Linked DNA regions of Homo sapiens. The protein of the gene in region 1 purifies or fractionates together with the protein of each later gene. This does not show direct contact. Each region holds a gene or a part of one and is shown on either strand. Other genes may lie near its edges.

The links. The genes of interacting proteins can lie anywhere in the genome.
Region 2: the proteins of TBCD (region 1) and NFU1 fractionate together in Homo sapiens (co-fractionation; one large-scale study listed by BioGRID). This does not show direct contact.

What each region holds. Positions count from the first base shown.
Region 1 is NC_000017.11:82,762,065-82,765,564, reverse strand, and holds part of TBCD (tubulin-specific chaperone D), read right to left. Parts: intron 1,601-3,500; coding exon 1,503-1,600; intron 1-1,502.
Region 2 is NC_000002.12:69,399,436-69,402,935, reverse strand, and holds part of NFU1 (NFU1 iron-sulfur cluster scaffold homolog, mitochondrial), read left to right. Parts: intron 1-2,397; coding exon 2,398-2,572; intron 2,573-3,500. UniProt on the Homo sapiens protein: Iron-sulfur cluster scaffold protein which can assemble [4Fe-4S] clusters and deliver them to target proteins.

The DNA of each region.
Region 1 (3,500 bases):
TTTCCCGCCAGACAACAGAAATGCGCCTCGCCACTACGAACCCCAAGCCCCACCCTGAGACGGCTGTGAGTACTTCCATAGTCAAAACTGCCAACAGTGAGCCTCTGGGCCAGCACACAGACACCCGCAAGCTTGTAAGAAAAGCAGACTATGAGCACAGACACCCGCAAGCTTGTAAGAAAAGCAGACTATGAGCAGACACCCGCAAGCTTGTAAGAAAAGCAGACTATGAGCACAGACACCCGCAAGCTTGTAAGAAAAGCAGACTATGAGCACAGACACCCGCAAGCTTGTAAGAAAAGCAGACTATGAGCACAGACACCCGCAAGCTTGTAAGAAAAGCAGACTATGAGCACAGACACCCGCAAGCTTGTAAGAAAAGCAGACTATGAGCAGACACCCGCAAGCTTGTAAGAAAAGCAGACTATGAGCACAGACACCCGCAAGCTTGTAAGAAAAGCAGACTATGAGCAGACACCCGCAAGCTTGTAAGAAAAGCAGACTATGAGCAGACACCCGCAAGCTTGTAAGAAAAGCAGACTATGAGCACAGACACCCGCAAGCTTGTAAGAAAAGCAGACTATGAGCACAGACACCCGCAAGCTTGTAAGAAAAGCAGACTATGAGCACAGACACCCGCAAGCTTGTAAGAAAAGCAGACTATGAGCACAGACACCCGCAAGCTTGTAAGAAAAGCAGACTATGAGCACAGACACCCGCAAGCTTGTAAGAAAAGCAGACTATGAGCACAGACACCCGCAAGCTTGTAAGAAAAGCAGACTATGAGCACAGACACCCGCAAGCTTGTAAGAAAAGCAGACTATGAGACCCCCGCCTAGACCTACTTGCTCAAAATCTATAGCACAGCAAAATTCCCAGGAAATTCATCTGCACATTAAAGTGTGAGAAGCACTTCCATTTCCACAGAGTCTCGCTCTGTCACTCAGGCTGGAGTGCAACAGCATGATCTCGGCTCACTGCAACCTCTGCCTCTCAGGTTCAAGCCATTCTCCCGCCTCAGCCTCCCAAGCAGCTGGGATTACAGTCATGTGCCACCAAGCCCAGCTAATTTTTGTATTTTTAGTAGAGACGGGGTTTCACCATGTTGGCCAGGCTCATCTCGAACTCCTGACCACAGGTGATCCACCTGCCTCAGCCTCCCAAAGTGCTGGGATTACAGGCATGAGCCACCGCACCCGGCCTGCTTTCTCCTTGTAAGAAGTTTTTCTGATTTAGTCTCATCTCCACCCCATTCCCTTCCTAGCTACACAGTGCTTCAATCTATTCAAATGCAAGATGCTGAATATCCTGACACTGTTTCAGCCAAAGAGCCCACATCACTAAATTCTGATCCCCAACATACAGTAAAAAGGGACAGAATTAAACCCACAACTTGTGTCTAAGAACTATCTTTCTTGAGAAATAACATTTTGGAGGGTAACCTCTGGACCAAGTATATTACAAAAGTATCTGTCAACTCTGAAGTGCTATGGAAATGTTACCTTGGTGATGATGTAAAGAAATTTAAAAGCCAGATGTACAAGGGAAGCTGGAGATGTCTGATCTTGCACTATGTCCAACAACAAGTTCATCATCCATTCTAGGGAAAAACATAGGAAACATTTACTGTAAAAGTGAACATCAACATGACATTGAGGCCGGCCAGGTGTGGTGGCTCATGCCTGTTTTCCCAGCACTTTGGGAGACCAAGGTGGGAGGATCATTTGAAGCCAGAATTTCAAGGCGGCAATGAGCTATGATCCTACTATTGCACTCCAGCCTGGGCAACAGAGCAAAACCCGTCTCTTTTTTTTCTTTTTTTTTGAGACAGAGTCTTGCTCTGTCCCCCAGGCTGGAGTGCAGTGGCGTGATCTCAGCTCACTGCAACCTCCACCTCCCGGGTTCAGGCTATTCTCCTCCCTCAGATTCCCAAGTAGCTGGAATTACAGGCACGCGTCACCACGCCTGGCTAATTTTTGTATTTTTAGTAGAGACGGGGTTTCACCATGTTGGCCAGGCTGGTCTCGAACTCCTGACCTCAGGTGATCCACCCACCTCGGCCTCCCAAAGTGATGGGATTACAGGTGTGAGCCCACCGCACCTGGCCCAAAACCCTGTCTCTTAAAAAACAAAAACAAACAAAAAGACATAGCTAGGTTAAACGTAAGCAAAAGGAAAAAGATATTCCAACCAATCACAAATCATAAAAGAGCTGGAGTGGCTCTGTTAATATCAGACAAAGTAAATGTCAGAACAAGCATTACCATCAGAGATAAACAGAATGTTTCATGATAATAAAAGGATCAATTCATCATGAAGACTTAACAATTCTGTAAGTATACACACCAACCTACAGAGCTTCAAAATAAGCACAGAAGAAGCTGAGAGAAATGAAAGGAGACACGGTTGAAAACTTCGACACTCCTGTTTCAGGAACTGATAGAACAAGTAAGAGAAAATCGCTGAAACCTAAACAGCACTATCACCCACCTTACTTACGTGACATTTAGAGAACAATCTACCCAACAACAGAACAGACATTTTTCTCAAGTGCACGCGGAATGTTCAACAAAACAGACCATACGCTGGGCTGCAAGTCTTCATACATGGAAAACAACTGCAACTGGCATCCGGGAAACGCAGAGAAGGACACAACGAGATACACTCCCTGAAATCAGAGAGACTGGCAACGCTGAGTGCTGAAGAGAACCCAGAGCAGCTGGAATCCTCATACCTTGTTGGTAGAAATGGTCAACAGTACAATCTTCATGGCATCAGTATGGCAGGTGATGAGTCACACACTTTTTTTTTTTTTGGAGACAGAGTCTCACTCTGTGACCCAGGCTGGAGTGCAGTGGTGTCATCTCAGCTTACTGCAACCTCTGCCTCCCACATTCAAGTAATTCTCGTGCCTCAGCCTCCTGAGTAGCTGGGACTACAGGCACCTGCCACCACACCCGGCTAATTTTTTGTATTTTAGTAGAGATGGGGTTTTACCATGTTGCCCAGGCTGGTCTTGAGCTCCTGAGCTCAGGCAATCCACCTGCCTCAGTCTCCCAAAGTGCTAGAATTACAGGTAGGAGCCACCGCGCCTGGCCAAGTCATACACTTTCTACAAGTAAGACACTTTCTGCTACTCAGCAATTCCACACATGCGTATTTTCCCAAGAGAAAATAAAACCTCTGTCTACCTAAAAACTTGTACATAAACATTTTCACAGTAGCATTACTTTTTTTTTTTTTTTTTTTGAGACGGAGTCTCGCTCTATCACCCAGGCTGGAGTGCAGTGGCAAGATCTCGGCTCACTGCAACCTCCACCTCCCGGGTTCAAGCAATTTTCCTGCCTCAGCCTCCCAAGTAGCTGGGACTACATGCGCACACCGCCACACTGGGCTAATTTTTTGTATTTTTAGTAGAGATGGGGTTTCACCGTGTTAGCCAGGATAGTCTCAATCTCCTGACCTCATGATCTGCCCACCTCAGCCTCCCAAAAAGTAGC
Region 2 (3,500 bases), on another chromosome or scaffold:
CGGGTAGGCAATTTTTTTTTTTTTCCCCAACGGGACACAAGAAATCAGATAAAGACCGGGCGCGGTGGCTTACACCTGTAATCCCAGCACTTTGAGAGGCCGAGGTGAATGGATCATCTGAGGTTGGGAGTTCGAGACCACCCTGACCAACATGGAGAAACCTTGTGTCTACTAAAAAAATAAAAAATTAGCCACGCATGGTGGCGGGCACCTGTAATCCCAGCTACTCGGGAGGCTGAGGCAGGAGAATCCCTTGAACCCGGGAGGCGGAGGTTACAGTGAGCCGAGATCGAGCCATTGCACTCCAGCCTGGGCAACAAGAGCGAAACTCCGTCTTAAAAAATAAATATATGTATATATATATCAGATAAAAATCAAGGAAAATACATATAAATTGGACTACAGTAAAATTGTGACTGTCTCTTCATCAGAAGATGCCATTGGCTGGGCACAGTGGCTTGTGCCTGTAATTCCAGCTACTTAAAAGGCTGAGGCAGGGGAGGCTCCCTTGAGCTTAGGAGTTTTAGGTAGCAGTGAGTGAGCTGTGATCATGCCACTGTATTCCAGCCTATGTGACAAAGCGAGACTGTTGAAAAGTGCCATTTACAGTCAAAAGGCAGGGTACAGATTAGAAGATATTTACAGTGTTTATATGACAATACATAAATAACTTGTACAAATTGGTAAGAAAAAGACAATCAGACACTGGAGCAGGTACTTCGCAAAAGATGATCAAATAGTGGCTGGGCGCAGTGGCTGACACCCATAATCCCGGCACTTTGGGAGGCTGAGGTGAGCGGATCACCTGAGGTCAGGAGTTCAAGATCAGCTTGGCCAACATGGTGAAACATGGTCTCTACTAAAAATACAAAAAATTAGCTGGGGGTATTGGTGCATGCCTGTGATCCCAGCTATCTGGGAGTCTGAGGCAGGAGAATCACCTGTACCCGGGAGGCGGAAGTTGCAGTGAGCTGAGATCGTGCCATTGCACTCCAGCCTGGGCAACAGAGTGAGACTCTGTCTCCAAAAAAAAAAAAGGAAAAAAGATAATCAAGTAGCCACTAAACATGAAAAAATGCTTAACCTCATTAGTTATTGTGAATATTCAAACCATAATTAAATATTTGTACAAATCCAGTAGAATAGTTAAAACTATTAAGACTGACAACACCAATTGTTGGTGAGGATGTGGAGCAACAGAAACTCTCATACACTGCTGGTGGGAATGTAAGTTTATATAACTGGAAAACTATATGGCAGTATTTATTAAATCTCAACATATTCATACTCTTTATTCAGCAATTTCACTTTCAGGTATATTCCCAGTAGTAATATATATGCATACCAAAAGACATTTCTAAGAATCTTTATAACTGCACTATTTGTAAAAGCCAAAACCTAATGTTAACCTAAATGTCTATCAACAGTAGAATGGATAAATAAATTCTGGTATATTTGCTTAATGGAATACTATGCAGCAGTGAGAGTAAATGACCTAGTACTATACTCAGCAACATAGGTGAATCTCACAAAGAGCATAGGAAGCCAGATACAAAAGAGTAATTCTACGTGATTTATAAATAGAATTTATATTTGTAAATTATAAAGTTCAGAGACTGGCAAAACTCATCAGTGGTGATATGAATTAGGATAATGGCAGCATTTTTGTTGTGGGGAGTGATTGGAAGGAAGCCCAAAGGGGACTTCTGGAGGTTTGGTGTTGTTTCTTGGTTTGGGTGGTTATAAATGTGTGTTCACTTTGTGAAAACTTAGTGAACTGTGCATACATGATTTAAGCATTTTTCTGTATTAATGTTGTATTTCAATGAAAAGTTTACCTGAAAATGAAGCCAGCATGTGACAGTCTCCCTTTTCCTTCACTCAAAAGAAGTGACTGAGTATATTTTAGGTAATCACAATAATTATTAGGAAATTTGAAATCTTAAGTGCTGTAAAATATTGTTTTATTTAAAAAAAATTTCTTTAGAGACAGGGTCTCGCTGTGTCACCCAAGCTGGAGTGCACTGGTGTGATAATAGCTCACTGCAGCTTCCAACTCCTGGGCTCAAGCAGTCCTCCTACCTTGGCCTCTCAAATTGCTGGGAATATAGGTGTGAGCCACCATGCCCAGCCTTAAAAAGATATTAGCAAGCAAGATCAAATGCGGTAAGCGGAGGAAATATTTGTATGAGTGAATTTTGGTATTTTACCTGAGAGTAAAAAAAAAAAATTTAATTCTAAATAAAACTTAGCCACAGTTATTATTCTGTATTATAAAAGTAGCTCTAACTTTGTGAATTTTACTAATATAAAATTTAAGCTCTGAGCTGTATTAAATTTTTTCAATGAAAACTTGTATTTTAAAGAATATGTCATAAATATTCTTTGACCTCACAGGCCAACTGTGCAGGAAGATGGAGGGGATGTAATCTACAAAGGCTTTGAAGATGGCATTGTACAGCTGAAACTCCAGGGTTCTTGTACCAGCTGCCCTAGTTCAATCATTACTCTGAAAAATGGAATTCAGAACATGCTGCAGTTTTATATTCCGGAGGTAGAAGGCGTAGAACAGGTATGCCAATATTATATGACAGTCTAGATTTTTTTCATTTTTTCTTTTTCTTTGTAGATACAAAGGCTGGAAATAGATGTTAAGGCAAGTATTTGAAAAGAAGTTCATGACCTAGCTTTTTCTTCAAGGGCTGGATTTTTGTGTTGCAATTTTTATCAGACTTGAAGTCTCTTATTTTAGAAGTAACTTTGGGCTGGGCGCAGTGGCTCAAACCTATAATCCCAGCACTTTGGGAGGCTGAGGTGGGTGGATCACCTGAGGTTGGGAGTTCCAGACCAGCCTGACCAACATGGAGAAAACCCCGTCTCTACTAAAAATACAAAATTAGCTGGGCATGGTGGCAGACGCCTGTAATCCCAGCTACTTGGGAGGCTGAGGCAGGAGAATTGCTTGAACCTGGGAGGCGGAGGTTGCGGTGAGCCGAGATCGCGCCATTGCACTCCAGCCTGGGCAACAAAAGCGAAACTCCGTCAAAAAAAAAAAAAAATGAAGTAACTTTAGTGTTATGAGAACCTACTATGTGCCAGGCATTTTTGCTCATTTCATCTTCTAATGACACAGTGCATTAAGTCATTCCCATTTTGCACATAAGGCTACAGAGACTCAGAGGGCATATTGCTGCCCTGATTGCACAAAAATTATGAAAAAGGTTTAAAATGTAACACAGTGTTTTATAGATGAGATTTAGAAATCTTTAGTGGAAGAACTCTACTACATCATATTTACCAATTTTTTTTTTTTTTTTTTTGTAGAGACGGGGTCTTGCTATGTTGCCCAAGTTGGTCTTGAATTCCTGGCCTCAGGTGATCCTCCCAAAATGCTGGGATTAAGGATTAACACAACTGGCCTAATCTATGTATTCTTAAATATGCAAGCAAGAAGCCCATTAAGAAATCATAGTTTGTTGTTATACTGAGTAGAATTCTAG